Homo sapiens: one gene and its partner. The protein of the gene in region 2 interacts with the protein of the main gene of each other region in a biochemical or structural test. Each region holds a gene or a part of one and is shown on either strand. Other genes may lie near its edges.

Region 1 (3,824 bases), on a different chromosome or scaffold from region 2:
TTTTTTTATAGGACCTGCTGTCCTTTGAGCTGTTGGATATAAACATTGTTCAAGAGTTGGAGAGAGTGCCCCACAACACCCCTGTGGGTAAGAATGTCACTCATTTCATCTTGTTCGTCTTACTAATAGGCACAAAAGTACCACAGCCTAGACACTGGTAGTGTTTTATTCTGAGGAAATGGCAAGGATTTCTCCCACAGTAGGATAGTAAAGCAGCAATCATGGATCCGTTTTTCTTCTTTCCTGTCCTTTGTCAAAAGTAACAACATGCTGGGCATGGTGGCTCGTGTCTATAATCCCAGCTCTTTGGGAGGCCAAGGCAGGAGGATCACTTGAGGCCAGGGTTTGAGACCAGCCTGGGCAACATGGTGAAACCCCCATCTCTACAAAAATTACTTTTAAAAATTAGCTGGGTGTGGCCAGGCACGGTGGCTCACGCCTGTAATCCCAGCACTTTGGGAGGCTGAGACGGGCAGATCACCTGAGGTCGGGAGTTTGAGACCAGCCTGACCAACATGGAGAAACCCCTTCTCTACTAAAAATACAAAATTAGCTGGGCATGGTGGCACATGCCTGTAATCCGAACTACTCGGGAGGCTGAGGCGGGAGAATTGCTTGAACCCAGAAGGCGGAGGTTGTGGTGAGCTGAGATTGCACCATTGCACTCCAGCCAGGACAACAAGAGCAAAACTCCGTCTCAAAAAAAAAAAAAAAAAAAATTAGCTTGGCATGGTGGCCTGCACCTGTGGTCCCAGCTACCAGGGAGACTGAAGTGGGAGAATCTCCTGATCCCAGGAGGCAGAGGCTGCAGTGAGCCAGGATTGTGCCATTGCTCTCCAGCCTGGATGACAGAGTGAAACCCAATCTCAAAAAACAAACAAAAAAAAGAGGCTGGGCACGGTAGCTCACGCCTGTAATCCCAGCACTTTGGGAGGCCAAGGCTGGTGGATCACAAGGTCAGAAGTTCAAGACCAGCCTGGCCAAGATGGTGAAACCCCATCTCTACTAAAAATACAAAAATTAGCCAGGCATGGTGGCAGGTGCCTGTAATCCCAGCTACTCGGGAGGCTGAGGCAGAGAGTTGCTTGAACCTGGGAGGCGGAGGTTGCAGTGAGCCGAGATTGTGCCACTGCATTCTAGCCTGGGTGACAGAGCAAGACTGCATCTCAAAAAAAAAAAAAAAAGCAATAAAACAAGTTCGTGCAAGGCTTTTCCACTATAAAGGAATCCTCTTCTCTTTTTTCCCTCTAGATACTTGTGTCCTTTTGTTCCTTTATGTTCATGGTTTTGTGTCTTGGCCACAGCTTTCCAGGCTAAATAACTGTGATTCTTCCTGCATTGATTGATCTGAGATATTTTGCTTACTTATTGGTCTGGAGAAATTTTTTGTAACAGACCTCAAAGCATATCTTGGTTTATTTTAGCCCTGCGGGAGGCAAGAAGCCTACAAACTGCTACTTCTGGACACTGACTGTTGATGATATGATGCTTTCTCTTGATTGATGGTTCTCCTGTCTTCATTCTCCAGATGTGACTCCCTGCATGTCTCCTCTGCCACATGACAGTCCTTTAATAGAGAAGCCAGGCTTGGGGCAGATAGAGGAAGAGAATGAAGGGGCAGGATTTAAAGCACTTCCTGGTAAGGGATTAAACATTTGTAAAGTATTTGCATCCTCCCTTTCCATATCATACCCTATTTTACAGCTATCCCCTACTGACCCTACCTTAGCATGTAAATGGGCTTGCTTTCTGTAGCATCTCATGTTTTGAAGTCTCCTCACCTTCACATGGCACAGATAGCAGCTATTCCTTGGTTTAGTTTTAGCATGGGTAATGACTGGTGAATGTTCTTCAGCACTTTAAACACCAAGTGCAGACAAAGTTTAGATAGCAGCTATTCCTTGGTTTAGTTTTAGCATGGGTAATGACTGGTGAATGTTCCTCAGCACTTTAAACACCCAGTGCAGATAAGGTTCGTGTGTCTTTCAGATTCTATGGTGTCAGTAAAGAGGAAGGCTGAGAACATTGCTTCTGTGGAGGAAGCAGAAGAAGACCTGAGTGGGACCCAGTTTGTGTGTGAGACAGTAATCCGATCCCTTACCTTGGATGCTGCCCCAGACCACAACCCTCCTTGCAGACAGAAGTCCTTGCAGAGTGAGTGTCCTTGCATTTCCCCTACCTAGCAGGGTGGCACCTGAATTGTGACTGCCAGACTTGACTAGTTAGATGTGCTCTTCTTCACTGAGACTGAAGGGAGAGTGATCTTAGTTAGAAGTTCTGATCTTGGCGGGGCGTGGTGGCTCAAGCCTGTAATCCCAGCACTTTGGGAGGCCAAGGCAGGCGGATCACAAGGTCAGGAGATCAAGTCCATCCTGGCTAACATGGTGAAATCCCATCTCTACTAAAAATACAAAAAATTAGCCTGGCGACGTGGCGGGTGCCTGTAGTCCCAGCTACTCGGGAGGCTGAGGCAGGAGAATGGCATGAACCCGGGAGGCGGAGCTTGCAGTGAGCCAAGATTGCGCCACTGCACTCTAGCCTGGGCGACAAAGCGAGACTCCATCTCAAAAAAAAAAAAAGAAATTCTGATCTTGTTTGTGTCTTTAGACTCTACGTATGCTACCTGACTGTTCTAATTAGAGCATCAGGAGTAAAGAAGCCATCATACTCATTTCTCCATCTTCTCAGGGGCAGAATTACAGCTGCATTCCACAGTGGAATAGCAGCCAGTTGTGCTGCCTGGATTCTGCAGTAAGGAATCTTCCTGTAATTTGACAGAGCTCCTTAGCAGAGACCCCTATGGGTAGCTGAGTTGTCTGCTTTCTCCAAGGGCAGCAGTCCCAGAAACAGTGGATAGAAGCAGGAGTACCAACAAAGTTTCTCAAGGTTAAATTCTGCTGTAATAAATACCTTTATAGGCCGGGCACAGTGGCTCACCCTTGTAATCCTAGCACTTTATGAGGCTGAGGCGGGTGGATCACCTGAGGTTGGGAGTTCGAGACCAGCCTGACCGACATGGAGAAACCCCATCTCTACTAAAAATACTAAAAATTAGCCAGGTGTGGTGGCTACATGCCAAGGATTACATGCCTGTAATCCCAGGTACTTGGGAGGCTGAGGCAGGAGAATCACTTTAACCCGGGAGGCGAAGGCTGTGGTTAGCCGAGATGGCGCCATTGCACTCCAGCCTGGCAACAAGAGTGAAACTCCGTCTCAAAAAAAAAAAAAGGAATAAATACCTTTATAACAGAAACTTCTAGGTATCAGATAGATAGAACCAATAGCATATATTTTAAGAAGTATCCAAAAATTCAAATATACTATGTCAAAATAATATTGGAGAATCTCTTTATTATAATCAAATTTGACCTATATCTTTAAATATTATTTATCTTACTTTTGTTTAAAGTATACATGTAAGGCCAGGCGCAGTGGCTCACGCCTGTAATCCCAGCACTTTGTGAGGCCGAGGCGGACAGATCACAAGCTCAGGAGTTTGAGACCAGCCTGACCAACATGGAGAAACCCCATTTCTACTAAAAATACAAAAATTAGCTGGGCGTGGTAGCGTGTGCCTGTGATCCAGCTACTCAAGACGCTGAGGCAGGAGAACTGCTTGAACCCGGGAAGCCAAGGTTGCAGTGAGCTGAGATCGCACCACTGCACTCCAGCCTGGGTGACAGAGCGAGACTCCGTCTAAAAAAAAAAAATAATAAAGTGTACATGTGGCCAGGTGCGGTGGCTCATACCTGTAATCCCAGCACGTTGGGAGGCCGAGGTGGGCGGATCATGAGGTCAGGAGATGAAGACTATCCTGGCTAACA
Region 2 (3,841 bases):
ATTATAGGTCTAGTCAAGATTTCTATTTCTTCATGTTTTTTAAAAAATACTTTTTTTTTTTTTTTTTTTTAGACTGTGTCTCTCTCTTTTTCCCAGGCTGAAGTAGTGGTGCACAATCTCGGCTCATTGCAACCTCCACCACCTGAGCTCAAGTGATTCTCGCATCTCAGCCTCCTGAGTGGTTGGGACGACAGGCAAGTGCCATCATGCCCAGCTAATTTTTTAAAAAAATTTGTAGGCCAGGGGTGGTGGCTCACGCCTGTAATCCCAGCACTTTGGGAGGCTGAGGCAAGCAGATCACGAAGTCAGGAGATGGAGACCATCCTGGCCAACATGGTGAAACCCCATCTCTACTAAAAATAAAAAAAATTAGCTGGGTGTGGTGGCATGCGCCTGTAATCCCAGCTACTTGGGAGGCTGAGGAAGAATCACTTGAACCCAGGAGGCGGAGGTTGCAGTGAGCCGAGATCGCGCCGCTGCACTCCAGCCTGGTGACACAGCGAGACTCCCATCTCAAAAAGAAAAAAAATTGTAGAGAAGGGTTTCTCCATGTTCCTCAGGCTGCTGTGGAACTCCTGGGCTTAAGCAGTCGGGCTGCCTCGGCCTCTCAAAGTGCTGGGAATACAGGTATGAGACACTGCCCTTGACCAAAAATAAACTTTATTGAAGTGAAACATATATACAGAAAAGTACACAAACCATGAGGATAAAACTTGATGGATTTTCAAGTGAACATACCCATGTAACCAGCAGAACAGAGTTTAAACAGAATGTTACCAGCACCCTAACTGTGCTTGTACCTGCCTTCGAGTCTGGAAAACCACTGACTTCTGGCAGGACAGATTTATAGATTTTTGCCTGATTTTATGCTTCGTATAAATGGAATTGTACAGTATATCCTTTTTTTGTGTCTGGCTCCTTTCATTCAAAATTATGTAATGTTCATCCATATTGTTGTTTATATTGTAATTTATTCATTCTCATTGCTGTATAGTATTCCATTGTATGAAAATACTACAATTTAGTAATTCATTCTACCATTCAGGAACTTTTGGGTAATTACTAGCTTTTGACTAATGCAAAGAGGGTTGCTATAAACATTCTTGTTTTTTGGTGAACATAGTGTACACAGTTCTTTTGAGTACATACCTAGGAGTGAAACTCCTGGTTCAGAAATACGCATATGTCTGGCTTTAGTACATACTGCTCAGTAGCTTTCCAAAGCGACTGTACCAATTCATACCCCCACCAGCAATGACTGGAAGTTTCAGTTGCCTTAAATCCTTGTTAACACTTGGTAGTCTTTTGTTCGTTTTGTTTTGGCCCTTCTGGTTGCCCATATAGTAGAATGGCATTGTGGTTTAAATAACTACTTAAATTTGTATACTTTCTTTTGTGAAATGCCTAAACAAGTCTTTTATTCTTTTTCCTATTCTGTGGCCTGCCTTTTTCTTATGGAATTGTAGTTCTTTTTAAATCTTGAGTGTACATTTTTAAATTACCTTCTGTGGCTTGATTCTTCACTCTTTTTTTTTTTTTTTTTTTTAGACAGTTTCGCTCTTGTCTCGAACTCATGACCTCAGGTGATCCACCTCCCTCATCCTCCCAAAGTGCTGGGATTACAGGTGTGAGCTACCGCGCCAAGCATACTTTTTCATTAAATATTTTAAAGATATATCCATATTGTTGCATGTGGTTATAATTTCACTAGCCTATGATGTATATTGTGTGAATATATCATAAATTATCCATTTTCCTATTGATATTTCATTGTTTCCAAATTTTTGCTGGCATGAACAACATTATGCAGACATTCCTGCATATATATGTGCATAAGAGTTTCTCTCATGTATATACTTAGGAGTGAGGTCACTTAGATCATAAAGTATGTGCATATTTAACTTTCTACAAGTGATTATACCAATACATACCCCTACCAGGATCATCAGACTTCTTAATTTTTGCCATCTAATGGATACAAAATTATCTCATTTTAGTTTTTCCTATTGTATGAAATATTTGTCTTTTGCACATTTTTTACAAACTGGGTTATTTTTCTTCTTATTGATTGGAAAGAGTCATTTACATGTTCTAGATCCTTGTTATATGTTACATGGGTTAGAAATAACTTTTTTGTTTTTGGTTTGTTGTACATGATCTTTTTGTTTCCCAACTTAAATAAAAAGAAGTTCTTAGAGATAGTTCACATACCACAGAATTCACCTTAAATGTGTTCAGTTGTGTTTTTTGTTGTTTTTGTTTTGTTTGTTTTTGAGACAGAGTCTGGCTCTGTCGCCCAGGCTGGAGTGCGGTGGTGTGATCTCGGCTCACTGCAACCTCCACCCCCTGGTTTCAAATGATTCTCATGCCCCAGCCTCCCAAGTAGCTGGGATTACAGGTGCACCACCATGCCTGGCTAATTTTTAAAAATATTTTTAGTAGAGATGTGGTTTCACCATGTTGGCCAGACTGGTCTGGAACTCCTGACCTCAAGTGATCTGCCCATCTCAGGGCCTCCCAAAGTGCTGGGATTACAGGTGTGAGCCACTGTGCCTGGCCAGTTCAGTAGTTTTTAGTACATTCACAGAGTTGTGCAGTTATCACCACAGTCCAGTTTTAGAACATTTTCGTTATCCCCAAAAGAAACCCTGTAACCCGTTCCTTCTCCCCCAGTCCATAGCAACTACTAGTCTTCTCACGTGCACTCTCTCTCGATCTCTCGCTATTTTTTTTTTTTTTAACAGAGTCTTGCTCTGTTGCCCAGGCTGGAGTGCAGTGGCATGATTTCAGCTCACTGCAACTTCCGCCTCCCAGGTTCAAGGGATTCTCGTAACTCAGCCTCCCGAGTAGCTGGGACTACAGGTGTATTTTTGTATTTTTAGTAGAGGTGGGGTTTCACCATGTTGACCAGGCTGGTCTTGAACTCCTGACCTCAAGTGGCGCACCCACCTTGGCCTCCCAAAGTGCTCGGATTACAGGCATGAACCACTTCTCCTGGCCTCTACTTTATATATTTCTATAGATGTGCCTATTCTGCGTATTTTTAAAATTTTATTTATTTTATTTTTTGAGACAATATCTCACTCTTGCTCAGGCTGGAGTGCAATGGTGCAATCTCAGCTCACTGCAGCCTCAACCTCCCTGGCTCAAGTGATCTTCCCTCCTCCCTCCCTCGAGTAGCTGGGACCACAGGTGTGCACCACCATGCCCCAATAATTTTTGTGTATTTTGGTTGAGATGGGGTTTTGCTATATTGCCCAGGCTGGTCTCAAACTCCAGACGTCAAGTGATCCACCTGCCTCGGCTCCCCCAGGTGCTGGGATTACAGGCGTGAGCCACAGTGCCTGGCCTATTCTGGGTATTTTAATAAACAGAATCATAGAATATATGACCTTCTGTTTTTATTTTCTTTTATTCAGCATAATGTTTTCAAGTTTCATTCATGTCATAGCATGTATCTGTACTTCATTCCTTTTTATTGCCAAATAATATTCCATTGTATAGGATATACCACATTTCCTTAATCCATCCAGTGATGGACATTTGGCTTGTTTCCACTTTTGGCTGTCATCAGTAATGCTGCTATGAACATTTATGTACAGGATTTTCTGTAAACATGTTTTCATTTCTGTTGGGTATATACCTAAGTGTGAAATTTCTGGGTCATATGGTAACTCTGGTTAATTTTTTGAGGAACTGCCAAATTGTTTTCCAAAGTGGCAGCAGCATTTTACGTTCCCACCAGCAACTGGAACTAAGGTTCCAGTTTCCCCACATCCTCAACCGAACTTGTTACTGCCTCTCATTTTTTATTCTATCCCATACAAAGTAGGTATGAACT

What was found.
Region 1: the proteins of USP8 (region 2) and NBR1 form a complex in vitro, tested with the Homo sapiens proteins (one study listed by BioGRID).

Annotation. Positions count from the first base shown.
Region 1 is NC_000017.11:43,194,953-43,198,776, forward strand, and holds part of NBR1 (next to BRCA1 gene 1 protein), read left to right. Parts: intron 1-11; coding exon 12-87; intron 88-1,528; coding exon 1,529-1,639; intron 1,640-1,989; coding exon 1,990-2,154; intron 2,155-3,824. UniProt on the Homo sapiens protein: Ubiquitin-binding autophagy adapter that participates in different processes including host defense or intracellular homeostasis.
Region 2 is NC_000015.10:50,511,224-50,515,064, reverse strand, and holds the end of USP8 (ubiquitin carboxyl-terminal hydrolase 8), read right to left. Parts: 3' UTR 644-3,841; downstream 1-643. UniProt on the Homo sapiens protein: Hydrolase that can remove conjugated ubiquitin from proteins and therefore plays an important regulatory role at the level of protein turnover by preventing degradation. Converts both 'Lys-48' an 'Lys-63'-linked ubiquitin chains.